Homo sapiens: one gene and its partners. The protein of the gene in region 3 interacts with the protein of the main gene of each other region in a pairwise test. Each region holds a gene or a part of one and is shown on either strand. Other genes may lie near its edges.

Region 1 (6,946 bases), on a different chromosome or scaffold from region 3:
TTCTCTCTCACATTCCAGAGCCAGCCCCTCCCTTCCCCCACCACCTCAAATCCAGGCTCCAAGCTGGCAAACACCCACGGGAGGGCATTTCCCACAATCCCTTTCTCTTTGCCCTTTCAAGGTTCTGATGGGGGAGGGGAGGAAGAGGGGCCACCAGATGCACTCTCTCCCTAAAGAATGGTGGCAAACATGTAGGCTAAACTCAAATGAGGGAAGAAAAGCATTGAACTCAGCCTGCTGGAGAGACCGAAGTGACATGGCAAACTCCCATTCCCAGGAGCTGCCCAGCCAACCACCCACCATTGGGTGCTAAAACACTTAGATTTTAAATCTCCCTTTCCTCTCCAATCTTTCTGTAGTTTCATCTCAACGATGTGCCTTGGCTGATTCCTTCTCTGCCCCCTTCCAGGGCCCCACTGCTATCCTGGACAGCTTGGCCTCAGCCTGGACAGTAGCACTGACCAGTCAGGCAAGAGAAGAATCTAGGCCGAGGAGGGGAGGGAGAGTGGAGGTTTTTTTCTTCCGTCCTAAATAACCTGTGGCTGGAAAGCTTAGGGACTCCATTGCCCAATGTCTCTTTTCCTCCCCACCAATGCCAGGAGGCTCGGCCTATCTTTCCATCTTGTGTGCAGAAACCAAGAGTTTTACCAGGAGGCTCAGGAGTATCCTTTGAGGAAACAGATCTTTCTGCATGACCCACCCCCTAGAGCTTTAAACCCCCTATCCTGCCAATCACAGAATGACTCCAGAGGACTTCATCTGAGCCCACCGTGATCCAAGTGTCCCAGCCTCTCTGGTCCCAAGGAAGGTCAAGGGAAGGAAGGTCCCCGGGTCCTCTGCCAGTCACTTCCTTGTAGCTCAAGCCAACCAAGCTGGAGCTGTAAATGAGCTTATGCACAGTGATGCAGGTGGGAGGGAGCTAGAATGTGGTTCAATGGGGCACACGGAGGAGGTAGGGGATACCAGCGGGCAGATCATTAATCCCCTCACACAAACATATGCACCCATAGACTGGATGTGGGTCAGATGTTGGGGAAGATGGATTTATTTTTTCCTCAGGGTAAGGGATAGCAGAGGGGTTCTGCATTAGAGCCACAGAGGGGCTGGAACCATAACCCTGCTACCCCTGCCACTCCCACTCCCCACCCACCCTCCATCGGTGGAGTCATTGCCATTTGATATCCGCTGAGACAACTTGGCTGCTCAGGCTCTGAGTGGGGGGTGGGGGGATGGCTCAGAAAACAGCAGCTCCTTTCAGGACCCAGGTTGGCAAGGGCTTTGGGAGGCTGGACCAGCCCAGATCACCCCCCAACACCCTCTCCCTCCCTTCCTCCCTTGCCACCACCACCAAAGGACTGGGGGAAGGCAGCGGGGAAAGGAGTTGGCACTGCCTGGGCCGTGCCTATTGCCTCCACAATCCAGCCCTGGACCCTCTCCCTGGCATGATGCCTTCCATCCCCCTCCTCCCTCGTTTCTTCCTCCCTGAAGAACCAGCTATGAGTCAGGATGCCTGGTTCCTTCCAAACTTGGTCCCCTATACCCAGTCTACCCCCAGAGAAATTTACAAGCCCTACCACTTGGCACAGGATGGTACCCACCATCATGCCAGGAATATGTTCAAAAATCCTTGGAGATTAGGGAGAGAGTTTCAGGATGAAACTAAATTGAACTCACTGGTGGCTGCCCACCCCTCCTGGGGCTAATTTCATGACAACCACTCCAGGCCCTCCTCAGCACCCTTAAACAAGGCCATCTCTCACATGGGGGCCCTAAATCTCCTGTCATTATCTCCCTCCCACCCAGGCAGCCTAAAGCAGTCCCAGTGGGGAGAAAAAAAATTCAAACACCACAGCAAGAGCAGACTGGCCAGACATCTTTAGTCAGAATTTGTATTGGTAAGCAACAGAAGCAGGCTTTAAGCACTGGCCTCTTTGGGGTCCAAATCTGCACCAGCTTCTTCCCCATCTGCCTCACCCTGCCTGGGGCACTCACTGGAATTAAACTTCAAGACACCAGAACCCACCCTCACTTTTTCCCAGTGTTGTCCTTCTACCCATTCCTGGGTTCAGCTCTCCTCCCCCAAATCAGGAAGTTCCATCCTTCATCTGTTCCCTAACACAGGTGCCCTGGGTTAGTTCTGATGAGAGGAGGAATGGAATGGGAAGGGGCGTCTCCATCTGGAGGGTGAGTTTATAGAACCCAATCTGCCCTTCTCACTCTAGCAGAAGTGGCCCTGCTCCTTTCCTTCTGGAAATCCCAGTGCGAAACAGCTGGGGTGAGGGTGAGGGGCCATGAGGAGGGATGTCTTAAAATGGGAGCCACTCAGAATAGAAGGAAGAGATTGGGTGGGCAGGGGTCTGGAGCACACCAGGCTTTGGTGGCTCCCCGGTTTAAGCTGCCAGTATCTGTTTTTCTCCCCATGTGGGAACTAGCGATCATGGGTGTCACTATGTGATTGTCACTGTATGGGGAGTGGGGGAGGGGCTGGGGATGGGAGTAACCTGTCCATATGGGGAGGAGGGCGCACTGTCTGTTGTGCCTGTGTATGGGGTGCCTGGTTATGTGTGGTTGTCACTGTATTAACTAGAGGAGCAGGGATGCAACTGCTGGTCTGCCCAGTGGGAGGGGGCATCGGGAAAGCCCCTTCCTTAGATGAAAGGGCTGAGGTGACCAGCCTGGCTAGTTTCCTCGTGGGGAGCCCTTCCCAGGAGGCTCCATTTGGGACTGCCCAAGGCGGGAGGCAGGGGAACAAGACGGTGGTACCGCTGAGGCCAGGCAGGGTAGGGACTGAGGATCTGGGACCCCGATGTCTCTGGAGAGTTAGGGGGACAGGACCCGGCCGGGGCGGCAGAACTCCTTCATCAGGGCCAGGGTCTTACCTTGGGTCCGAGGTGGAGTGGCCCCTTGGATGGGCCGCGGGGCAGCGGGACAGATGGACGGACGGGGCGGGCAGGAGTTAGGAGCAGAGCTGTGCGACGGGCCGGGCCAGGACTCTTAAACCCGGAGCTGGGATCAGATAAGGGCTTGTCCGGGGGCCGGGGCCGGGGTCGGGCCGGCCGGGGGCAGAGCTGGGCCGGGCCGGGCCGCCCCCTCCCTCCGCAGCGCCGGAGCCAAACTTTGTGTGAATGGAGGGGCCCGGAGGGGGGCCGGGCAGGCGGGGGCGGGGGGCTCCGAACAGACCAATGGGAGAGTGGAGCGCCAGGCTCGAGCCGCCGAGATTGGAGGGTCTTGGGCAGGGGGCGGGGCGTGCGGGGCAAGGAAGCGGAGACCCAGACAGCTGCAGGCGCAGAGAGAAATATCCAAAGACAGAGACCCAGACAGACCCGGGGAGAAAGAGAGATGAAGAGACGATATGCGAAACGATAGGAGCTGAGCTGGCAGGGTGACAGGGGAAGGGAGAAGGAAGAAAAGGGAGGCGGTCCTGTCAGCGATGGGTTACGAGAGCTGGAGCCGGGGGGCGGGACTGGGACCGAGTTAACGAAGTGGAAATGAATTCAGGACCGGCCCAGTGGCCCTGCAGGCAGCGCCGAAGGCGGCGCCTGGAAGTGAGATTGGGGCGGAGTAGGCCTGGGCTCCCTGAGCCACAGGACTGTATCTTTGGGCACAATTCCCGTGTTGTTCACCGTCTCCTAAGTCCCCGGTGCGGTGCTGGGTGAGAGACGCGCAGCACACGGTGCCCACCTGCAGCGGCTTTCTCTGTAAGGAAAGATAAGGCCGGAACCCTCAGCGAAGTGCGGGAGGTACTGAAGGCTGTAAAAGGGAGAGGTCATTCTACTCAGAGGGCTCCTAGCAGATGTGGGAGGAAAGAGGTAACATCTGATTAGGGTCCCAAAGGAAGCAGAAGATTCAGGTGCTGAGAGATGGTCCCCAGGACTCTGTTGCATTTAAGGCAGAGGGAACAACGTAGCAGAGTCCTGGGGAGACGTGAAAATACAAGTTCACTTGGGAAACAGCATCAAACTGTCCCATTTACTAGATTAGAGTGCAGGGTGATGGTTCTCAACCCTTTCATCACCAAAGATTTCTTTAATTTTCTGAATCTATGTGTTGAGAGGTTTTAATTCACCCCCACCCCCAGCATTTATTTAAAAAGAATATAATTATTTCCTCATTTCTGATCATCATAAACATTTAACTGCTAATCAATAACCAGTGTTACCATATTGAATTGCTATAAATTCAGGTAAAAAAAGGAAAGAAACTAGGAATGTAGCTTAGTTTAACCACTAAAAGCCATAAGATAAGTAAATGTCCATTCAAATAGCCTCATTGGAGAAGCTGGAAGGACGGGACTAAAGGTTAGGCACCATAGGCAGTGTTTGTGTTAAGGGGAACATCCGGAAGAAACACAGAGTTGTGCTGATTTGTGGTCAGGCCAGAGTTTCTGTAGGCTACGGAGAGCAATTGAAGGTTCTTGGGAAGGATGGAGTAGGAGAAAGCTATGGCATTTTAGGAAAATTAATCGGGAGGTGACAAAATAGTTTGAACCAAGTGGATATAGTAGGCAAGTAGACGATAGAAAATAATTGCAATAATATAAGCATGAAGAGATGACAGCCCAAATCAGCGTGGCAATGGTGAAAAGTGGAACACAGAAAATGAATTGGAGTACAGAAAAATCAAAAGAAAATGAAAAAAGTTTGAAGCCAACTTGACATGTTGAGCAAAAGAGGGAAGCTTCAGAGATCATACTAGAGTCTCAAGTCAGGTGATCAGAACTGCGAGGTCATTCACGGGCATAGGGGAGCCTGGGGGGGATCACACCTGGTGAGGAGACTGAGGTGGGGGAAGAGGAAGTGATGAGTTCAGAGCTGGAAGCTGTGGAGAGGGGTCAGAACCAGAGAGAGAAAGGAGGTCATTGCTGCCAGGGCAGTGTGAGTTGAAGCTATGAGAACAGGGTAGATCCCAACAAAGACTGCACAGAGAAATGAGAGCCTGGCACAGAGAGTGAGGAACACCTATGTTTAGGGGATGGGAAGAAGAAGGACCCCCAAAGAGTGAAAGAGAATCCACCAGACAGGCAGGAAGGAGACAAAGAAAGTGAGATGTCATGGAGCTAAGGAAGGAGAGACTGTTAAGGAGGAGGTTCTAACAGTGCCAACAAGTACAGAGAGAAGAGGCATTGGGTTTGGCAGTGACAAAGTCTCTAGTGACATTTGAGAGCAATTTCAGAAGAGTGAGCAAGGTGGGAACCAGATTACAAGTTACCACTAGAAAGTGAGAAACTGTCAGCAAGTATAGGTTACACTTTTGAGAACTCTACTCATAGAGAGGAGAGAAATAGAAACCAGACAATGTACTAGAAACAGGCCAGGCCAGGTGGCTCATGCCTGTAATCCCAGCACTTTGGGAGGCCAAGGTGGGTGGATCACCTGAGGTCAGGAGTTTGAGACCAGCCTGGCCAACATGGCAAAAACCCATCTCTACTAAAAATACAAAAATTAGCCGGGCCTGGTGGCACGCGCCTGTAATCCCAGCTACTTGGGAGACTGAGGCATGTGAATCGCTTGAACCTGGGAGGCAGAGGTTGCAGTGAGCCGAGATCACGCCACTGCACTCCAGCCTGGGGGACAGAGCTAGACTCTGTCTCCAAAAACAAAACAAAACAAAACACAAAATAAAAAGAAAAAGAAACAGTCTTCCAGTTTTTCTTCTTCACACTCCGAATGCCCTCTCTTCCTAAGTCAATATGGATGAGGGGCTGTGGTGAGGTGGTCTGAGGGCCAGCCTGCAAGACTGGTATAAGACCTTTAAGTTTCAAAAAATAGGACATCCAAAAGATCCTTAAGGGGGCCACAGTCTTGACATTCACAGACAGAGAGGACTTAGGCAGGGGTGTCCAATTTTTTGGTTTCCCTGGGCCACATTGGAAGAAGAAGAATTGTCTTGGGCCACACATAAAATACACTAACACTAACAGTAGCTGATGAGCTTTAAAAAAAAAAAATCACAAAAAAAACCCTCATGATGTTTTAAGAAAGTTTACAAATTTGTGTTGGGCCTCATTCAAAGCTGTCCTGGGCTGCATGCAGCCCACAGGCGGTGGGTTGGACAAGCTTAGCTTGGAGGCTCTGGTGGAACTCCAAAATAAACATGAAGAACACCACAGAAGAGAAAGCAAAGGGACTGTAATGATTTATGGATCATTAACAGACATTTATTGTGCACTTATTATTTTTCCAAAAATGTTATCCATCCATTTAGCTTCAACTACCACCCATGTGTCAATATGTCCAGCCCACCCGGATATCCATTTCAAACTCAACATATTTAAAGTCGAACATGTCACCTTGCTCACAAGAGTGCTCCTCTCCATTTATTCTCTACCATGGTAGATACACTATCATCACCCAACCAGAAACATGGCAGCCATCCTAGATTCTTCAATCTTCCTCACCTCATCTCCCTTATTGAATCAATGCATCTGTATTCTAAATAGCCTCAATATTGTCCCCTTCCTCTCTATTCCACTATCATTGCTGTAGTCTAGGACACCATTACCTCTCACCAGGTAATAATAGTTTGGATCTTTGATCCTGCTCAAATTTCATGCTGGATTTTAATGCCAATGCTGGACATGGGCCTGGTGGGAGGTGTTTTGATCATGGGGGCAGGTCCCTCAGCGGCTTGGTGCTATCTTCATGATAGTGAGTTCTCGTGAGATCTGGGTGTTTAAAAGTATATGGCAACATCCCCCATCATCAACTCTCTCTTGCTCCTGCTTTTGCCATGTGATGTGCCTGCTCCTGCTTTGCCTTCCACCACAAGTAAAAGCTTCCTGAGGTCTCCTGAGAAGCTGAGCAGATGTCAGCACCATGCTTCCTGTAAATCCTGCAGAACTGTGTGCCAATTAAACCTTTTTTCTTTATAAATTACCCACTCTCTGGGTTTTTTTTTTTTTAATTTTTAATCTTTTTTTTTTTTTTGAGACAGGGTTTCACTCTGT
Region 2 (7,501 bases), on a different chromosome or scaffold from region 3:
TTCCATTTATGAATCAAGCTCTGTTAGCGGCTTCATGTGGGGACACCCTGTTCTGATGAAGTTCATCTTCTGGGACACAGTGATACTTCATTTAGGTTTAGGAAGCAGAGAAGAGGACTGGGGTAAATCAGAGGTGGGTGTCAAGGTATCCACTGGAGAGAAAGGGAAAAAGGACTCAGAAGAGAATTTTAAAGTCACAGGAGTTATTGGATGTGGTAAGTGAGAAAAAGTGCCTGATGACCTCTGCAGAGCTGACCACTTTTTCTGAAAAAGAAGTGTCCATGATTTAAGAGTCATTATAATGAAAGATACCATCTTTCAGCTATTAAGGAATAATATTAAGGCAAAGATGAGACAAGATAATCATTCCCTACTTTGGAGCTGGGGGGTAGAAGGAAGAAGACTACATAAGCTAGGTCAAAACTGAGTATTAAAAGTGCTCAGCTGGGCGTGATAGCTCACGCCTGTAATCCCAGCACTTTGGGAGGCTGAGGCAGGCGGATCACGAGGTCAGGAGATCAAGACCATCCTGGCCAACATGGTGAAACCCCGTCTCTACTAAAAAAAGATACAAAATTAGCTGGGTGTGGTCACGTGTGCCTGTAGTCCCAGCTACTCAGGAGGCTGAGGGAGGAGAATCACTTGAACCCGGGAGGCGGAAGTTGCAGTGAGCCAAGATTGTGCCACTGCACTCCAGCCTGGCAACAGAGCGAGACTCCATCTCAAAAAAAAAAAAAAAAAAAGAAAAGAAGTGCTCATACTCTTTGTACCAGTAATTCTATTACTAGAAATTATTCTTAGGATAATAAGATGTGGATAGTTTTATAAGCAAACATTCACTGTAATATTTATAATAGTAGTAACTAATAAAGGATTTGTTAACACAGTAGTACATTTTTACAATAGTTTTATGTATCCATTAAAGATTTATGAAAAGTTTCAGTGAGATAGTGTATGCATGATACAAAACTAGTGAAGGCAGTATTCTCCTTGGAAACAACAAAAGAATAGCTGGAAATAACCACTAATATGTTGATTTTTCTGGAAAGTTGGGAGACCAAGTTGCAAAAATGCATTTCTGTTTTCATTCCTTGCAAGTGACAGTTTAACAAAAAATTTTCCTCCAAATTTGGCTAGCCAGCAGCCTTTATGGAATTTTAGAGTATGGACTGTCAAAATAATTTCTCTTTGCTTTTGACAAGCAACAGTGATGGCCTCTGTATTAGTCTGTTTTCACGCTGTTGATAAAGACATACCTGAACCTGGGCAATTTAGAAAAGAAAGAGGTTTAATGGACTTACAGTTCCACATGGCTGGGGATGCCTCATGATCATGGCAGAAGGTGAAGCAGGAGCAAAGACATGTCTTACATGGCGGCAGGCAAGAGAGAATGAGAGCTTGTGCAGGGAAATTCCTCCTAATAAAACCATCAGATCTCATGAGACTTACCACTATCATGAGGACAGCATGGGAAAGACTCGCCCCCTTGACTCAACTTCCTCCCACCGGGTCCCTCCCACAACACGTGGGAATTCAAGATGAGATCTGGGTGGGGTCACAGCCAAACCGTATCAGCCTCTTTCCTCAAAACCTATGCACTAATGCAATTGCCTCATGAGTTTACATGTTTCTTCCGCATCTGGAAGAGGGTCATTCTTTTCACTGACAGCAAGGGCAGAACTAGGTTAATGAGATCATGTCTTGTTCTGGATTGCAGTCTGTTACTTGGCATACAGTATGGTAGGTTGATTAAATGCATTCTAACTTCTCTACACTCTTTTAAAAAGCATGTATTGAGGTGATTACCTCAATAGGTGCTACCAACCCTATCAGCTATGACTGCAGCTTCATGTAGTGGGTAGTGTATTATCTGTTCATACCAATTCAGTCAAGTTAGCCTCTTTCCTCTGTAGGGGCGGACTCACTGACATCTCAGAAAACATCTAATTGAAAAAATGTGCTCCATATGGAGTTCAAAATCTACAGGTTGTTGTTGTTGTTTTATAAGGACTCTTTCCTAAAATGCAATATGTGATTTTTTAATACATTACACTGACTACAAGGTTTTCATTGATGCCAGTCACAATGAATGTGCAAATTGTGTGGAATAAAGTGAATATTATGGTGCAGTCTTTGGAACTTTTCCTTGAACATATTCTTTCATCTCCCTGCTTTGGCCCCATATACTAATTCTTAGAGGCAGCAAGAACCATACTGACCCTAATGACATGTTCAGGACTATCTTTCCCTAAGCTTAACTTTTAAAGGAAAGGCAGAAGCCACCTGCTTCTGAGTGGCTATCCTCCTCTGCATAGAGACTGATAGGCCTCTCGAAAGCCTGACTGGGCAGTAGCCCACACATCATTTATCACTAAGACAATGGTCCATAAGGTGTCTCTTTGCTAACTCAAGCCCTTTATCTTATTTTAAATATGCTTATTCACGAAGAAAAGCAAAACAAACAAAAAATGTTCCATGACTATTTCTGCTCATTGAGAGATTTTGTTTTCCAAATTAGTTTCAAACAAATTGTGCTAAAGAGTGTACGTTTATGGACGTCCATCTCCTCCAAAATCTAGGTGAAAATCTCTTCTAAACCTACATGTGTTTGAATTAACAGAATGCCAAGGAAAATCAAAATTGGATCTAATAGCACTTTGGGAGGCCGAGGTGGGCGGATTGCTTGAGTCCAGGAGTTAGAAACAGGCCTGGGCAACATAGTGAGACCTTGTCTTTACCCTTAAAATACAAAAAATTAGACGAGCGTAGTCGTGCACACCTGTGGTCCCAGCGACTCTGCAGGCTGAGGTGGGAGGATGCTTGAGCCGGCGAGGCGGAGGTTGCAGCGAGCCGAGATCGCGCCACTGCACTCCAGCCTGGGCGACAGAGAGAATCCCTGTCTCAAAAAAACAAAAACAACTTCCCCAACCCCGCCCCCCGCCCAAACCCTCACAACTTTCTGGCTGTAGGAATTCTCGTTTTGCAGCTGAGGAAACAGGTTTGGAAATTAGACTGCATACCTAAAATCACTTGGCTCATCAACCTACAGCTCCCTCTAGGGGGCTGCCTCGCCCTTATTGGTTATGTGCACATTTGGGGTGAATTCCACGGTCATCTAACAGAACTGTTTTGGTAGTCCCAGGTAAACTTACGGTACGGAAATTTGTTTCTTGAGGATACAAAAAAGAAAGGTGTCAGGGGGAAAGTAAAAATTCAACTCCTAAAACATCGCGTGTAGAGTCAGGCAGTCACTTCATAAAGAGTTCAGTCGATGAAGTTTCACTCTTGAAACTTTACTGTATGTATGCAAGCCCTAACTATTAATACAGGTGACAGCATCCACCTTATCTTCCATTCTCCCTAAGCCCTGAGGGTGGGGATGGGGGGGGGGGCACTCCAATCACCTGAGCCTAAGAACATAGCCTAAGAACATGTGTCTGGCATGGTCTGGTTATTTATAGCCTAAAAAAAAAAAAAGCCAGCTTCTTGTCCGATTCAGGCTTTCCCTGCCCAAACCCACTAGCTTAATGCGATATTGACATTACCAGGAAATGCATACGTCCCAAATGCATCTGCTTATAGATGTTTTTACCTCCTGAAATAATACCGGGTCACAAATACTGTTGTGTTTTTTGCAGAGAGCTTCTACTGCTCATTTAATTCAGGGGCGTTGGATTTGTGCTGAGCGTAATTTGACTCCAAGCATGCAAACTGATCAACTTCTTCCCGTGTGTTTGGGGAGTACAAGTGACTACTGCGACTCCTCAAATGTTTTTCTTTTCCTTTTCACGTGGAGGAAAGCGAATTCTCCGAAGACTGTTCGGCGTTCTACGCAGGGGTTGGAAGGGGGGTTCCTGAGTCACCTCTGGCTGCGCGGGGGGCCTGTGTGTACCCTCAGGGACACCAGGCTGGAATCGTCCACCTTACTTTCAAATGATAAAAGTGCGGAGGGTCTTTCTGCCCCTAAGTCGCGTACAGGATTGCCTGTTTACGGAGTACACTTTCACACACTTCTTTCCCGGTGGTGCAGTCTCGTGGCGGCAGAGCCTTTAGGAAGGCTCTGGGGGGAGACAAGATCAGTGGCGACCACGCCTCCCATGTTACAGCGCTCGCTTCCTACTGGGGGTTGGCGGGGACACCAAGGCTCTCCAGCCCGGGAACACGGAGTTCGGCTCCGTTGTACCCAACTGGAAAGCTGTGGAAACACAAAACTCGGGCGGCGACAGCACCAGCCGATTTTCCGCTCTCTTGGCTCTTTCTTCCGCTTGCACCGCCCCCACCCCGGCTCCTCCGCTCAGCACACAGGAACCCACATCCCCCACCACTCCCGCGTTTCTCTCCTGCCACCAGCTGGGGCCTGCCTTTTATAGGCGCCGCAGCCAATGAGCACGCTTCTTTCCTTCTGCCCGCCCGCCTGGCCAATCGCCGCGCCCCTTGTGTAATCTCCGGCTAGTCGGCTGCTTTCGGCTATTTTCGCTGTTGCTGGCTTTTTCAGGAGCTGCTCGCTCGCAGCCAGAGACGCTGCTTTTTTTTTCCGGGTTCGGAGCCGTTCCGGATGCTTTAGGCTGCCGGATGTCTGATCTCCGAATAACTGAGGCGTTTCTGTACATGGATTATCTGGTAGGTGCAGGGCAGGGGTGGCATGTCGCCTCTCGGATCTCGGCGTGCCCGATGGCCCCCTGCCTTGAGGAGCAGCCTTTTTGCTTTCTTTCTTTGGGATAGGATGCCTCTGGGGTTCTTTCTCCCGCAGCCGGCTGGTAAGCCTTTCCCTGGACTCGGAGGGGCAGCCTCCAGGGCGGGTGGGTGGTGGAGCTGACAGGTAAAGGTGCGGCCTGGGCCAGCACGGCTGCAGGGCGAGGGTCGCGCTGGGGCTGCTTGAGAGATGGGGCGGCCGCGGCGGCGCGTCCCCTGCCCGCGATCGGCTTCCTGGCTTCCCTCTGCGCTCTCCGCAGAGGACTTTCTTTCCGGGGGAGCAGGAGTTTTCCTCTCTCCCTGGAGCAGAACTCCAGGTGCTATTAAAGAGCCATAACCAGAATGGCTCACTAAGTGCCCAGCAGCCCTGGTCATTTGATTGTTATTAAATCTCTAAAGCTATGACCTCGGTCGTGGCGGGGTTTTAAAAGCACATTACCATAAAGCAGACGGGTCTAAACTACCTCGCAGGCTGGCACGAACAGGACTGAGTAGGGACAGGTATAGCCCCACCATTCCGGTCTTGGGTGCGTGCCGCGGTTCCACTGTGCACGGATTGGAACCCGGCTGTTTAGGCCAGGCTTGTGCTGAGAAGTTTAGGTGGGAAAAGTGTCAGCACAGTGCTGGGACCGAACATCATTTTAAAAATGGACTTCTATGTGTCTTTGTGGAATTATGCGAGCACCATGTTTTGTTCCAGAAATTATATTTCCCCAGAGTTGCTTGTTTGCGTTTAAGGGGATCCTCATTTACAGAGACTTGTGTTCGATCCTATACGATTATTGTGTTTACCATGTTGGGCAGAACCGCTATTGCCATGCAGAGTTGAAGTAGACGGTTAGAAACATTGACCCTCCTGTCATCTTGTTGGACACATGCACTCGGTTTTCGACTGCAGATTGGCCTGGCAGAGATTTGCCAGTGCCTTCTAGGAATTACACTTAAGGCTGTACTGAGAAAGTCTGTGCATGCTTTGATGGCCAAGAAACGCCGGACCGGCTTTGTGCTGTTATCTGTGTATTTGGGCTTATTTTAGTGTACATAAAGAAAATGTTTCTCCTAATGCTTCAGAGCTTGATGGTCTTGTGGGAAAGGATGGTGACTGCAGTTAATGCATAGCCTTGTGAATGGAGCTGGATCTAAAATTCTGAATTCAAGTTCTGTTTTGTTGTTCATTTGTTGATGGCAGTAACTTCCTTTATCTTTGTGATAAAGGGATATTATTCACCCAGTACTGTAGCTGGTTACGGGGATTATCTGATTATGAACATTCTTCACAATACAAGGTGCCCTGTAAGTTAAGAGAGCTGCCAGAAGATTATTTTCTAAGTTAAATAACTGATTTAATTTGTAATTTATCTTATAAAATACAATACATGGTTTTTGTCTTGCAGTCTGCCTAAATTAAAGCGAAAGTTTGTTGGGATAATTACCAAGTAGGAAAGGGTGACATTGCCTGTACTACTAAAAGCTAATTTTGAATACTTAAATAGTTCTTAAAAAAGAAAATCAGGTGGTTCTGACATTTTATTATTTTCTTTATTTACCGGATGTGTTTTAAATTTATAAATTGCATCACAAAGCTGTCTTTGAGGTGCCAAACCTATCAAAATGCTTAGTGAAAACAAAATTGATAACTCTGGTTAATTACTCAGGCTAACCTCTAGATAGGCATAGTCTAAAGGTGAGTGGATGAATGTTTGTGGGCCCAAGGTTACCTTAAAAGCAGATTAATTTATTTGCCAATTTACTAACAGCTTTGTGTCAAAATCAACAGGTCACAAATTTGACTTGGCCTTTTTGTTTTACCTGGGCTCAAGTTTACCCTAAAAGCAGATTAATTTCTTTGCCAATTTACTAACAGCTTTGTGTCAAAATCAGCAGGCCTCAAATTTGACTTGGCTTTTTAAAAAGCTTTACTTGCCATACATCTTAGTTTTACTTTTATATTTAAAAAAAATCATTATTTTGCCACTTTATCCATCTAAAATTCACAAGTGCAGTGACCAACCCCATAAAAGCCAGTGGCTACTCTTTGGAGGTGAGAAAAGAAATCTTAAAGGAAACAGTTTAGTTTTTGTGAGTGTGCCAAGTGTCCCCTGTGAAAAGATTTCAGAAAATTCTTTAGCATTAAACTGGATGGAAACAAACAGAAAAACCATCTCAAAACAAAAAACTAGCCCTCCCGAGGTAGCCTTTTTGTGTTCACCTTTTGCTTGTCGACTTTCAGAGAAAATGATGTGCCACACATTATTTTTCTCTTCCTGTCTTTCGGATTGACTTGCTTGCTTATGCATACTCTGTGTGGCGTTTATTAAAAGCCCTATTTCTGAGGAATAGAAATCAATTTATTTGCATCTGGTATCTTATTTTATTTTTAAAAAATTCCTGAGTTCTTTTACTTACCTTGCAGGGAAAAAAAATGCTCCTTTCATTCCAAGTTTGACTCCAGATTTTGCTGAATGGATTAGAGTAAGTTCCCTTTCCATGCACTGACAAGAATGATGGTGTGTGTCATTTCTTTTTAATCAGTATTTGACTTTCTTGTGTTGTTCCTGTTGGAAACTGGAAGAGAGAGCTGTGTGTGTGTATGTATCTATTGTTCATTGTTCTTTGGGCTGGATGTCGTCACTTAACCTTTTTATTTGGAGGAGAGTGGAAAGGAAGAAGGGAGAGAAAGGTGGAGGTGCTATTTTGTCTTAACAGGATTAATCCTTTTAATAAGATTGAGATATTAAAACAGATGAAGAAGCTCTACTGATCTTCGGGTCGCTGTTGATTTCTTAAAACAAATGTTCTCAGAAGTGAC
Region 3 (7,024 bases):
AGGTTCACACACCCCAGGGAGCACTCCAAAAAACTTGGGAGGGCAGCGAAAAAGGGTTAAAACTTCTATTTATGTTTATCGTTTCCTTAATCTTTCAAAAATCTCCACTGTAAGCCCATGAGGCCAGCCCTGGTGAGCTATTGGCAAAAGCTATTTGGAACAGGCCATTGGTAAGCTATCTGGAACAAAGTGGGGGCTGCCTCATGTTTACTCTTCCTACCAGAATAACTTCCAGCTAGTCAAAGCTCTAGGCATTAAAAATGCAGCTGCAGGCTGGGCGTTTCGGCTCATGCCTGTAATCTCAGCACTTTGGGAGGCTGAGGCAGGTGGATCACCAGAGGTCGGGAGTTTGAGACCAGCCTGACCAACATGGAGAAACCCCGTCTCTACTAAAAATACAAAATTAGCCGGGCGTGGTGGCACATGCCTGTAATCCCAGCTACTCGGGAGGCTGAGGCAAGAGAATCGCTTGAACTCCGGAGGCGGAGGTTGCAGTTAGCCGAGATCGCGCCATTGTACTCCAGCCTGGGCAACAAGAGCGAAACTCCATCTCAAAAAAAAAAAAAAAAAAATGCAGCTGCAAAAGTTTGGAAGAAAATATGGGTATGAAGATTATATATATACTATATATAATTATAATGTATAATATAATGTATAATAGTTATAACATATATTATGTACATATAATATGTATTATATATATAAAATCTTGTAGCAGGAATTAGACAATAGCAAAACCATGGAACCTTAAAGGAAAAGATAGTCACACTTGCAGATTATAAAAATTTTTAAATCCTGTATAGCAAAAAAAACATAAAATTCAAAAGACAAATGATGAACTAGGAGAAATTTTACAAGTGCTATGGTAGACAAAATACTAAATTCATTATAAAGTTATCAATAAATATGCAGAAACAGAATAGCAAAATAGGCAAAAGATATAAAAAGGCTATCTCTTAATAAAGAAACACAAACGACTTTTAAAAATTCCCAATGTTTGGCCGGGTGCCATGGCTCACACCTGTAATCCCAGCACTTTGGGAGGCCGAGGTGGGCAGATCACCTGAGGTCAGGAGTTCAAGACCAGCCTGGCCAACATGGTGAAACCCCATCTCTACTAAAAATACAAAAAATTAGCTGGGTGCAGTGGCGCGTGCCTGTAATCCCAGCACTTTGGGAGGCCGAAGCGGGTGGATCACGAGGTCAGGAGTTCAAGACCAGCCTGACCAACATGGTGAAACCCCTCTTTACTGAAAATACAAAAAAAAAATTAGCCAGGCATGGTGGTGGGTGCCTGTAATCCCAGCTACTCAGGGGGCTGAGGCAGGAGAATTGCTTGAACCTGGGAGGCAGAGGTTGCAGTGAGCCGAGATCATGTCACTGCACTCCAGCCTGGGTGACAGAGCGAGGGTCCGTCTCAAAAAAAAAAAAAACAAAATTAGCTGGGTGTGGTGGCACATGCCTGTAATCCCAGCTACTTGGGAGGCTGAGGCAGGAGAATCGCTTGAACCTGGGAAGCAGAGGTTGCGGTGAGCCGAGGTCGCACCATTGCACTCCAGCCTGGGCAACAAGAGCGAAACACCGTCTCAAAAAAAAAAAATCTCAATGTTTTATAATGTAATATATTCAGTAGTTCATATGCAATTTATAAATAAACAGAAATATATCAGAGGTACATACTGAAAATTTTCTTACTAACAGGAGTGTTCCATTGAAAAGCAGAGAAGCCACTGCTCTTCACCACCCCCTGGGTTCTTTCTGCAGAAATTTTGGGATGAGACCTACTGCTTCCTGGAGAGGGGAAGTGGGAAGGGGACAGCCGCTCACCTCGATCTTGCCCTCCTTGGCGGCCAGCTTCAGAGGCGTGAGATCCTGCAGGTTGCGGATGTCCTCAAGCTGCACGGTAGGGCAGAGGCGGGCCCCAGCTTGGAGGAGCCCATCATACATGCTGGTCACCAGTGCAATGTTCTCAGCTGAGTTGTCCGAGATCATCACTAGGGCATGCAGGACTGTGTTGCCCTGGGAGTCAGTGGCCTGCAGGCTGGCGGGCTGGTGTGGGTTCTCCAGGAGGTAGCTTACCACATCCCACTGCTTGGTGCAAGCGGCCAAAGAGAGGGGTAGCTCACCTGCAGGCCAAGAGAGCAGCTTGGGCCCCAGGCCTCCTGCTTTCCATCTGCCTACTCCTCATGCTCCTTGGACAAAAGGCCAGCCCTCCTTGAAACAGGTCAGGCTTCTTTACCACTGAAGGGAGCAGAACAGGGGCCAGCCAACCTGCTGCCTTTTGCTGTCTTCTTTGCCAGAGCCCAGGCATGCTGCCTCTTTATTCAGGCTCTGCCTGGCCAAGTCACATGCCAGTGCTAGCAGCCCCTATTTCTTTCCCTGGGTCTGGGTCTGGGTGCATGCCCGTCTTCTGGCCAGACGAGGATGAAACATCTCTTATGACAAATTAATGCTGGATGTGGTGGCACACACTTGTAGCCCCAGCTCGAGAAGCTAAGGCAGGAGGATTGTTAGAACCCAGGAGTTTGAGGCTGGCCTGGACAAAAGACAAACTGCTTTTGCAGGCAGCCTAGTGGTTAGAAGCAGGGCATCGGGGTCAGAAAAACCTAGGTTTAACTGCCAGCTCTGTCATACACTAACCATGTGACCTTGAACCAGGCCTTACTCTCTCTTTGCCTCGATTTATCCAAGAAAGGCTCACTCACCGAAATAAAAGCAAGTCCCTTGGCCCTTCTGGAAGAAGCGGCCGCAGGCCCGGGCATGCACATTGGCCCCATTCTCCACCAGGAGCTTCACACACTGCAGACTCCTCTTCTCAATGGCGATGTGCAGAGCGCTGTGGCCTCGGTAATAGTCATCTGTGCACTGGGCATTTACCAGGGGCTGAGGATTGCCAGAGTCCCTGTCGATCTGCAGCAGTGGCAGAATGCAGGCATTGACTCCGTCCTTAAGGTTCAGCACAGCCTTCATCAGGCACGTCTTACCTGTGGAGCCCTCTGTGGGAAGAAGGGAGGGGAAGGGGCACAGTGGTGCTGAGACCTGGAGTGGCTGGGCTGCCCGATAGCTCTTATAAGCCCAGCTCAAAGTACCCCTTGGGAGGATTAAAAGAGATGCTACACATAACTGGTGGGAGCACAACCATGTTATAGGCTATTAAGGCTCCAAGTAACAGATAAGAAATACCAACAGACATGACTACAATTTCTGCCCTAGAAACGAAATTTCTTTTTTTTTCTTTTTCTTTTCTTTTCTTTTCTTTTTTTTTTTTTTTTGAGACAGAGTCTTGCTCTGTCACCCAGGCTGGAGTGCAGTGGCGCAATCTTGGCTCACTGCAAGCTCTGCCTCCCAGGTTCACGCCGTTTTCCTGCCTCAGCCTCCCCAGCAGCTGGGACCACAGGCGCACACCGCCACACCCGGCTAATTTTTTTTGTTGTTTTGTTTTGTTTTTTGTTTTCAGCAGAGACGGGTTTTACCGTGTTAGCCAGGATGGTCTCGATCTCCTGATCTCATGATCTGCCCACCTCGGCCTCCCAAAGTGCTGGGATTACAGGCGTGAGCCACTGCGCCCGGCTTAGAAACTAAATTTCTAAGACATAAGTCATCATTCGTGAAATGCTGTCTACAGCAGAACATTCAGAGCAGTATTTGTACATGACTCCACCACTTAATGTCTCTATCTCCTCTGGCAAGTCACGTGGCCTCTCTTAATCTCAGTTTTCGTTACTGTAAAATGGGAATGTTCCAGGATTATTGTAAGGTTCAAAGGGAATAATATAAGGCCAGGCGCAGTGGCTCACGCCTGTAATCCCAACACTTTGGGAGGCCAAGGTGGGCAGATCACGAGGTCGAGTTCCAGACCAGCCTGACCAACATGGTGAAATCCCATCTTTACTAAAAATACAAAAATTAGCCAGGCGCAGTGCTGGGCGCCTGTAATCCCAGCTACTCGGGAGGCTGAGGCAGGAGAATTGCTTGGACCCGGGAGGCAGAGGTTGCAGTGAGCTGAGATCACGCCACTGCACTCCAGCCTGGGTGACAGAGCAAGACTCCGTCTCGGAAAAAAAAAAAAAAAAAATGGCCAGGCGCGGTGGCTCACGCCTGTAATCCCAGCATTTTTGGTAGGCCAAGGCGGGCGGATCACGAAGTCAGGAGATTGAGACCATCCTGGCTAAAACGGTGAAACCCTGTCTCTACTAAAAAAATACAAAAAATTAGCCAGGTGTGGTGGCTGGTGCCTGTAATCCCAGCTGCTCGGGAGGCTGAGGCTGAGGCAGGAGAATGGCATGAGCCCGGGAGGTGGAGTTTTGCAGTGAACTGAGATCGCACCACTGTACTCCAGGCTGGGCAACAGAGCAAGACTCCGTCTCCAAAAAAAAAAAGGGGAATAATATAAACAAAGTGGATAGCACACAGAGGGCCTGGCACACAGCTAGTTGAAGCCAAAAACTACGAACAACCTAAAATGGCCATCGATAAGTAAGGAATTGGTTAACTAAATGATGATAAGGACACAAGGGAAAACTCACTCTGCAGTTGTCAAAGTGACTAAGTTAGACATGTACTGAAATGGAAAGTGCTACAAGATGTATTAAGTGGAGGAAAAGCACGTTACAAATTAGTATATGTGTCAAGACCCCATTTATGTAAATATATACTGATGTATTAAGAAAGTCTGGATAGGCCCTGCGCGGTGGCTCACACCTGTAATCCCAGCACTCTGGGGGGCCAAGGTGGAAGGATCACTGGAGCCCAGGAGTTTGAGGCCAGCCTGGGCAACATGGCAAAACCCCATCTCTCCAAAAATAAAAAAGAAGAAAGAAAGAAAGTCTGAACAGATGCATTCTCAAACAATTAATTGGAGCCCAGGATGAGAGACTGTGTTTACCCTTGGCTCTATATGTTTCCTTACTGTTTGAATCTTCTAGAGTACTCATGTTATTTTTCTGATCAGCCCAAACAATACAGATATTTAGATTTTGGGCAAAGAGTGCTTTGAGATGGGTTAAGTATATGGTATGTGCATTATATATTATATCTCAACAACACTGTTATTAAAAAAGATAAAAAAAGATTGCTTTGGGTTTCCATTCAGCCACTGCAATGGGCTAGGGGTGACAGAGGTAGCCAGGAGGCCTGAGGGGTGGGTGGAAGTGGGAGGCACAGCCAAGACTGACAGGAGGCCATCCTTGATTAACTCTGTCCACAGGGCCCCCCAGCCATCCTTCCAGTGGGAGGGCTGCTGAGAACACTCACTCCTCAGCTCCTGACCAGGGATCAAGCCCACACAGCCCACCTAACTATCAGCTCACAGGATGCCTAGCCTTGGATCCACAGGGCAGGGTCTACCTGTGTATTCCGAGTCGGTGAGGTACTTGCTGGTCTTGCTCAGGTACTCTGGAAGTCCAGCCAGATCCTCGGGGACACCCCGGGAGACCGCATTGAAGAGCCGATCTCGGTCAAATCGGTTTGGATCCGGCTGACTGTGGAGGATGTGGTTTGTGACTCATGCTGGAGAAGAACCACAGGCCCCCCCAAAAGCCCTCCATCCCAGGGAGCCCTTTCAGGGAGTCCTGTACACACTGCACACCCCTCAGGCCCAGGAGCCCAGTGAGAGCCCTTCTGAGGGCCTCTATCCTCCTAGAGCCATCCTAGGGGACCCCGGGAGGAGGAAAAGGGGCCTGTCCAGGCACTAAGCTGCTTCATCCCCATGACGCCAGTCATCACAGACACTTTTCAGCATCAGGTGCTTGTCATGTGCCAGGTGCCTTGATGTACCATCTCTCAACAGCCTCGATATCCCACTGGGTCCCCTTCAGCACACACCACTTGTGGTGGCTCTTGAGCTTGGGGCTGGATCTGGATAGGGCTGTGGGAGGTCCCCGCAGACTCACAGTGGCTGCATGCATCACTGCCTTCAAAGAAAGTATGCAGAAAATCTCCCTTCTCCTCTTAGAAACCATCTATTAACTACAGAATATTCTGTGCCTTTCATCTTCACTTCAGCCCTGCTGGTCAGAAACTACTCATTTCTCCATTAGATAAACAAGGAGGTCATGTAACTTGCCAAAGTCACACAGCGCCAAACTGGGAATCTCAGCAGGGCTGTTTAACTTTAGACCCTGACTCTGAATCCCCAGAGAGATTCTAGGCTTGGCAGCAAGAAATTTCCCAGAAACAGAGCATTACCTGGGCCCAACGCTGGGCCCAATGTTGAAACATATCAGACACCACCAAGAAGGCACACCTAATGAGAAATCTCTCCCACAGACCCCGGAAGGGATCTGGTAGCTTGTCAGAATCTAGAATCTAGCAGCGTCTGGTGACTGGAAGTGGGAAGGGCATGAGTCATTCCCTCCTGGGCTGTGTTACTAATCACAGGGGCCAACTTGCCTCTGGGGCTTCTGGTACCACCACCAGCAGATATGCGAAGACAAAGAACAGGGGGTGCTATTTGATGATTTGTAGACCCTCAGGTCCCAGCTTAATGTCTCTTGTGGAATGGGTCAACCAAGTAAAGGTTGGTGACAAGGTGATTGTTGGGATCCGTCACTTTTTTTTTTTTTTTGGAGACAGAGTCACACTGACACCCAGGCTGGAGTATGGTGGCATAATCTCTGCTCACTGCAACCTCTGCCTCCTTGAATCAGGTGGGGATTTCAAGGGTAGACTTTTTAAGCCAACAGCTATGACTGTAATTACAGCCAGCCCTCCTTTGTCAGCACCAGGAAGCCACACATGACCATGAGGGCTCTATCTGCTGCTGACAGGAGCCCTGTGGACAGTCTGGCTGGCAGAAGTGGCCATTTGGACAAAGAACTTTCTGTCACCAGGGTGGCATCATGGTCCTGGGGTAGGGAAGCCCATTGAGGGCACAGATTGAGGTACTGAAAGCATCAAGGGCCCGTCCTGCCTGTGTCGGGCAGGCTCCACAGCTCCCAGAATCTCCTCATGCATCCTCCCCTACCCTGGTGCTGAATCTGACCACTGTCCTCCAGCACAAACAGGAAGCAGCTCTAGCCTGCGA
Region 4 (7,039 bases), on a different chromosome or scaffold from region 3:
TGTTTGTTCTAAAATTTCACTTTATCCCTACCTTATTATTAACATTTTAGATAAAGATTTCTAAAAATTAGAACAAGGCCACTGCAACAATGTTTGTATACCCACAAAATTCATGTATTGAAATCCCAGCCCCTCATGTAATAGTATTGAGAGGCGGGGGCTTTGGGACGTAATTAGGTTATGAGGCTCCAGAGAGATCCCTCAGCCTCCACGTGAGGACACAGAGAGAGGACAGCTGCCTAGGAACCAGGAAGCAGGCCCTCACCAGACACTGAATCTCCTGGCACCTTGATCTTGGACTTCCCAGCCCCCAGAACTGTGATAAATAACTTTCTGTTGCTTATAAGCCACTCAGTCTGTGGTGCTCTGTTTTAGCGTCCCAAATGGACTAAGACAGCCACCTGTCATTTAGAATGGTCCAGTTTTTTAAGCTGACCGGTTGTTACAGGGAAGACCATCCATGTGATTGGGCTTGTACAAATTTAAATGGTGACAAAATATAAATGATCCGAGATTCTCAGAGTTGGTGGCCCCAATCTTTCACCCACTAAGGGCATTCCATCTATGGTTTCTAAGGAGATGATTCTCAGGCCCGACTTCCAAAGAAGGAGAGCTTACTCACTTCATCCATTCCTTCTCCTTTAGGTAACAATGCCAAATTCATTTTGCAGAACCACCTCTTCTTCCATTGGAGGGACCCTCACTGGGGGGACTGTTAGCCAGGTGGTACATCATCCTTGGCCATATGAACCAAGCCAGACCAACCAAATCCTCTTCCTGGGACTGGAGTCCTGATCAGAGAGGCAAAAGGGCTGAGATATTTTGGAGCTCAGTTTCCCTGGAAGGACACCTCTGAAAGACCGTCTGGGAGTTGCTGCTGCTGAAGGTTTGGGAGCAACCTCACTCTGTCCTTCCAGAGCCTGGTTCTCTAGCCCTCTGTCCTTTCTGAGAGCTCCACTATACTCAGTCAGTAAGTTCTCCTTTTCTGTATTGTATTGTATTGTATTGTATTGTATTGTATTGTATTGTATTGTATTGTATTGTACTGTACTGTACTGTACTGTACTGTACTGTATTGTATTGTATTGTATTGTATTGTATTGTATTGTATTTTGAGATGGAGTCTTGCTCTGTCGCCCAGGCTGGAGTGCAATGGCATGATCTTGGCTCACTGCAACCTCCGCCTCCCAGGTTCAAGCGATTCTCCTGCCTCAGCCTCCCGAGTAGCTGGGATTACAGGCATGTGCCACCATGCCCAGATAATTTTTGTATTTTTAGTAGAGATGGGGTTTCGCCATGTTGGCCAGGCTGTTCTCGAACTCCTGACCTCAGGTGATCCACCCGCCTAGGCCTCTCAAAGTGTTGGGATTACAGGCGTGAGCCACTGTGCCCGGCCAAATTTTCCTTTTCAAAAAATTAAGCAGAGTCTGGTTTTGATGCTTGTGACTGGGCAGTCATGACTGATGGACACTTAGGCAGGGGTACCAATTGCCTGAAGATGTCAACAATTCTTCTAAAGAGATAATGTGTCCATCAGAAGGCAGAGTTATGGATCAGTGGATGCACAGCAAACAAAAGTGCCAAAAAGGACCTCAGTGGCCCTCCCCATCCACAAACAGCCTTGCCAGAGAGTGCTGGGGCCATAAACTGGAATTCTATGGTCCAGGTTGATTCTACGCCAGTCAAGGAAAATTAAAAGCATCATTTGTACGAGCTGTGCTGATTCAAGTAGTCTAATTGCATAAATTGTATCATCCCTGCTTTGTAGATTAAAAGACTCAGACTGGAAGAAGTTATTTCACTTGCCTAAGACCATGCAGCTTCCAGTAGGGCAGCTGTGGCTCTAAACAGAGGTCTCTCTAGACCATGTTGTCACCAGTAGGTTCAGTTTAGGCTGTCACTGTGGAGTCTTGGAAACTGGAAGCCCACAAGGCAGAGGCCTCATTGGTCTTGTTTAGGATAGCATCAGTGTCGGCCATGTTGCAGGTGGCTGATTACCACAGTCTAAGAACTGATTAGAACAGCAGCTGTCACCCCTGACTGCTCGTTAGCGTCCCCTGGGGATGCCCCTGCCTCACTCTGATCAATCAAGTCAGAGTCTCTGGGGGCAGGTTCTAGGCATCAAGAGTTTTTATAACCAGCCCCCTACCACTCCCTAGGTAATTCAGGTATGCAACCAGGATGGAAAAACCACCTGATTAAAGGCAATCTGGTCTCCACTGTGCCACTAAACTGCTCTTGTCAAGGCCACCAGCAACCCCGATACTGGGAATCAGAAGGCTCTTCTGACCTCTTCGGAGGCTACCTCTCAGCAGCAGTTGATACAATTAACCAACATCTACTCCCCTTCTTGAATCAAATTTCTTTCCTGTGACCCCCGAACTTATCTGATTTTCCTGCCTCACTCAACTCTCCTTGCTAGTGACACCCCCTCTTCCAGGCTGCTAAATGTCTGTGAACCCCTGGCAGCTGTCCTGGCCCTCTGCCCTGTCTACCTGCTCATGCACACCGGGGGCTTTAAAACCATCCACAGGCCGGCCACTCCCAAACGGATGTCTTCAGCCCCAGATCCCCTTTATCCAGTCGCCTACTTGGCACCCACACTTGGACAGCCCCTAGGCTACTCAGGTGTAAGGGCAATCTGTTTCTCCAGTATTACCTGCCTAAGCTAATAGCATCTCCATTTTTGTTAGTCAAGCCTCAAACCCAGGAGTTGGCTTTATTCTTCTCTTTCCCTCACCTCGCCCTTCCCCGCCCCATATTTTTTTCATCATTTAATCCCAGTGGCTCCACCTCCACAGTAGAGAGCACAATCATTCACTGCTGTCTTCCTACAGCAGCCACCTTCATCGCTCACCTGGACTCCACTAGCCAGCCACCTGCTTCCACTCTCTTCCCCTGTAATCTTGGCTCCACAGAGAAGCCCTAGCAATCCTCGTCACCAGCAATTACATCATGCATCTCTCCCACTGAAAAACCCTTGGAAAAGGTTTCATCTAAGGATGAAAATCTTACCATGCCCTCCCATGTCACATCAAAAGGGCTCAAACTCACTCCGTCCTTAGCCCCTTCCCGGGTGACTCCCTGGTTTATGTTGTTCCAGCCAACCGGCCTCCTGCCTGCTCTGGGAGTGCACCAAGCTTACAGGGCTTAGCATTTGCTGTGGCTTCTGCCTGGGACTCTCCTCCCTCAACCCTTCACATGTCTGCCCTCTTCTCATCTTTCACGCACAGCTTCAGTGCCATCTCCCAGAGTCATCTAAACAACGGCCTCCTCTGTCACTTGAGTCGCTCTCTCCTTACACTCCTATCTGCTCCTCTCACAGTGGTTTTCATTTCAATGGCCAAATTATTGGTTTAATTCTGTTGTTTTATTAGCAACTCATTCACCATTTTAAAGAGGCAAATCCCTAACAGGGAAATTGTAAGTTATAAAGCAGCCCAAGTCCATGGCTTCCTCCAGGTCTAGAGAGCTTCCCACCCAAAATACAAAAACAGAGAGGGGGTGAGGCTGAACTCACACCAGGCAGCTCATTGGCCACTGAGTGCAGCACCTTGCAGCAGCTGGAGCCCCCAGCAGTGTGACTCCTGCAACAGAATGGGCCCCCACCCCTCCTCCAGACATCCCGAATGTCCATGCTGTTGTCCATGTAACACAATGACTCCATCATTATCAGTAACATGGTTAATGTGGACTCCCGTCAGCTGGGGATGGAGTGGCCAGCCTCAGCCTCATGTAACCCATTGTTTCCAAAGGGCTGCAGGCTGCAGAAGCCCCCAAGCTCTCAGGCCAGCTGTGGCTTCTTTGCTGAGATGGAGGTATAGCCAAGAAAGCAGCCTGAAAAGTAAGGACAGAAAATCAAGGCAAAGAGGGTGGGTGAACCAGGCCATACACGTCGGCCATGCAGCAGCAGCCCATCTTTCCCGAGGGATGGACTGAGGGCTTGGCTACTCCCCTGACCATAAATGGCTTGGCCAGGGTTCTCTTGGAGCCACCTCTCAGCCTGCCTCTGCAGCTTTGTCAGTTAACTGTTCCTACAAATGAAAGACACAAGCCAATAAAGCCAGTGAGAAAGGAGCTTACCAAAGGCAGTGTACGAAGAAGGTTCCTGGGAGACTGTCAGAAATGGTGAGTGAAAGCTGGCATCTCTTCTCAATCGAACTTTCATTTCTTACTATAAAAAACCTCCAAATTCAATTAAATGTACAATGAAGTAAAGGGACTTTATTTTAAATTATTTTCCTATATGCAAAATACCAATAATTTTTTAAACTTCTCACCTAATATTTGCTGATCTTGTCTTTCATTTTGGTATTAAGGTTTGTTTTTAAAACCCCACATACAAGAGTACAGAGTAGATGTTTCACCTATGTTCCCTTTCTAGTTGAAGCAATGGATCTAATCAACGATTTTATCTGTCTTACTTGTTTAATCTGGCTTTTTGTTCCATCATCAGCAACATGGATGGTCATCATTGATCAGAAATTTTCCATCTTTCTTGTTTACTTGTGATAAATATTTTGTTGTGACTCAATCAAATGAAGTTTGCTAAGTTAGAAGAGAAAACAAGAGGGTTCTGTGATTTACTAAAGAATTATGGAAACAGCCTAGGTGTCCATCAGTGGATGAATGGATAAAGGGACTGTGGTTTATATGTATATATACAACTGAATATTAGCTTTAGAATAGGAGGAGACCCTGCCATTTGCCATGTTTGTCCTATTTGGACCTGGAGAACATTATGCTAAGTGAAATAAGCCAGACACAAAAAGAAGAATATTGTGTAATCTCACTTTCTTGTGGAATTTTTTTTTTTTTTTTTTTTTTTTTTTTTTACAAAAAGCATTGTTAAAAGGAGTAGAGCTCAGTCTGTGGAGTTAGGGAGATCTGTGATCTAACCTGATCTCTACCACTTAAAAGCTGGTGAGCAAAAACCTATCTTGGTCTCAGTTTCCACAGGTATAATATAGGAATAATAGTGCTCCCTTCATGGGGAGGTTGTGAGTATGGGGTCTTATACCCAGCACACCTTCAACAGCAGTAAGTTTTTATCCTGTCTCTTCCTCCTTCCTCTCACAAACTGCAAACTTATAATGAAGGACGTTCAGCCACTGAGATCCCAAAATGCCTTCAGAATCATTGTGTAGATACTGCATAGTGCTCAGACTAGCAGTAAGCAATAATTGCATTGTATCCAATTCTAGTACTTTGACTATCACTAACTCATGCTTGCAATTCCATTCCACAAGAACTTTCCTATCCTTAGCTCTGTGCTGGCCAGGCCATAAAGAATATGCTACCACGTGATCCCTAAAACACAGAGGGTGTTTTACAGTTTGGGAGAAAGGAGCTGCCACAGATGACATTACGGTATTCCCTTGTGAAGTGGGCAAGGCAAGTTAATAGTATCCCATTTTGAGAATGGGAAAACTGAGCCTTGGAGAATAGATTTGTTGTGAGAAAATGGAGACCAGAGGGTTTGAGTGACTTATCCAAGACTACACAGCTCCTAAGTGGCTAAGTGTGGGCTCGAATTTAGATCAGGTGGCTCCAAGCTCAGGGTTGCATCATCCCACTCAGCTGTGTCTCTGAAGGGCACTGCATCAGATTCTTCTCCACCCTAATTTGTGCGATGTTTTTCTCTCCATGAGAGCACTGTACTGTGTTTCTACAAAATATGAGTGTCTTTCTGAAATTGGCCAAAATCTCCGTCATCCGAATGTTGATAAACAACACATGCAATGGCCCACTTGTTGCTGCACCCCCTCTTCTACTGTCCTCCCAAAGGAAGCTTTGTCTTAGGGCTGCTGACATCAGTCCTCAGTGCCCACTGATGAGATAAAGCTCTGGGCAGCTGCATTCAGTGCAGCGACCATCCAGTGTCCTTGCAGCACGTGTTGGTCTGGTGCTAGCGTGAAGAGCAGTGGTTAGGTCCCTTGAGCAAGAGGACCCTGACCTAAGAGGCCCAGACGTCCCTGTGTTCCACCGTCATCCCAGAAGCAGAGGTGCACAGTGCTGTCAGCCTGGGTGCTCTGATTCATCCACAGAGACTACTGGAGTTGCTTGGAAGCCTTGCAGAGTGGTGGAAAGAGGTTGTCACCGGGACACTCAGGTTCTGGTGACAGCTAAGTAGTTGTTTGGACTTGGGAAACCTGTTCAAATTCTTGAGGCTTGGTTATTCTCTATAAAATGCGGGTGTCCTATTGCCAAGAGGGGGAGAAGTGAGCAGAGGCACCACTGAAGCGTGCTAGTTGAGCAGGGCCACGTTGATTGAAGGACATAATATTTGGGGCAAAAGCTAGGGGGACTTACACATTCTAGGTGCTTAAAACACTTCTGGTTCACAAAAGATTTTCTTGTTCATTAACCCATCTGAATTCCAATCCATCAGTAAGTCAGCTGAAATAGGTGTTTTGTCAGTTTGCTTCTGTTGGGATGAGATCCTCTGTTACCATCTTTCGGGTTGGGGTTGAGTCACATAGACTGCGGCCCATTGGCTGGTCTATGTGGCTCCAACTGTTCTCATTTGTCCATGAGGTGATTTCTGATAAGTCCCTGGGTTTCAGTTTCCTCTGCTGGAAAATGAGGGTTTTGAGAGAGATGATCTTTCAGGTAATTCAGGTGTGAAACATGATTCTTTTGGATTCTTTAATGTTTCACAACTTTCCTATTGTTGGATAACATTTAATTTTAAAACTTAATGAATGCATTGTTTCTACAATGACAGAATCTGGTCTTGGGATGCTGGAAAGACGGGAAGCTGTGGTGTAGACCAAGCCCAGGGAAATATCTGGGGGTCAGGGAGACCGAGGCTGAAGGAGGGCCCAGCCAGGAGGTATTAATCCAGGGTGGCTGGACCCAAGGGGCTGAGAGTCCAGAAAGTGGGAACAAGACCACTTCCACCCAGGGAAAGAGGGGAAAATAGTTTCACTGGCTGAGTCAGAACAGGTCCACCCATCATTCCAATCTAGGTAGGGAAAGGACTTGGTAAGGAGCAGCCTGGAAAGGCTAGAGTAACAGGGGCTAGGGACAGGGAGGA

Evidence for each region.
Region 1: the proteins of TRPV2 (region 3) and KCNJ10 interact in a protein complementation assay, tested with the Homo sapiens proteins (one study listed by IntAct).
Region 2: the proteins of TRPV2 (region 3) and ARL15 interact in a protein complementation assay, tested with the Homo sapiens proteins (one study listed by IntAct).
Region 4: the proteins of TRPV2 (region 3) and OPALIN interact in a protein complementation assay, tested with the Homo sapiens proteins (one study listed by IntAct).

Annotation. Positions count from the first base shown.
Region 1 is NC_000001.11:160,067,143-160,074,088, forward strand, and holds the start of KCNJ10 (ATP-sensitive inward rectifier potassium channel 10), read right to left. Parts: upstream 3,019-6,946; 5' UTR 2,880-3,018; intron 1-2,879. UniProt on the Homo sapiens protein: May be responsible for potassium buffering action of glial cells in the brain. Inward rectifier potassium channels are characterized by a greater tendency to allow potassium to flow into the cell rather than out of it.
Region 2 is NC_000005.10:54,307,551-54,315,051, reverse strand, and holds the start of ARL15 (ADP-ribosylation factor-like protein 15), read left to right. Parts: upstream 1-4,478; 5' UTR 4,479-4,572; coding exon 4,573-4,620; exon of another isoform or gene 4,621-4,642; coding exon of another isoform or gene 4,643-4,757; intron 4,758-7,105; coding exon of another isoform or gene 7,106-7,164; intron 7,165-7,501.
Region 3 is NC_000017.11:16,418,571-16,425,594, reverse strand, and holds part of TRPV2 (transient receptor potential cation channel subfamily V member 2), read right to left. Parts: intron 5,481-7,024; coding exon 5,347-5,480; intron 2,997-5,346; coding exon 2,706-2,996; intron 2,127-2,705; coding exon 1,828-2,126; intron 1-1,827. UniProt on the Homo sapiens protein: Calcium-permeable, non-selective cation channel with an outward rectification. Seems to be regulated, at least in part, by IGF1, PDGF and neuropeptide head activator. May transduce physical stimuli in mast cells.
Region 4 is NC_000010.11:96,355,983-96,363,021, reverse strand, and holds the start of OPALIN (opalin), read left to right. Parts: upstream 1-4,019; 5' UTR 4,020-4,125; coding exon 4,126-4,128; intron 4,129-5,862; exon of another isoform or gene 5,863-6,112; intron 6,113-7,039. UniProt on the Homo sapiens protein: Central nervous system-specific myelin protein that increase myelin genes expression during oligodendrocyte differentiation. Promotes oligodendrocyte terminal differentiation.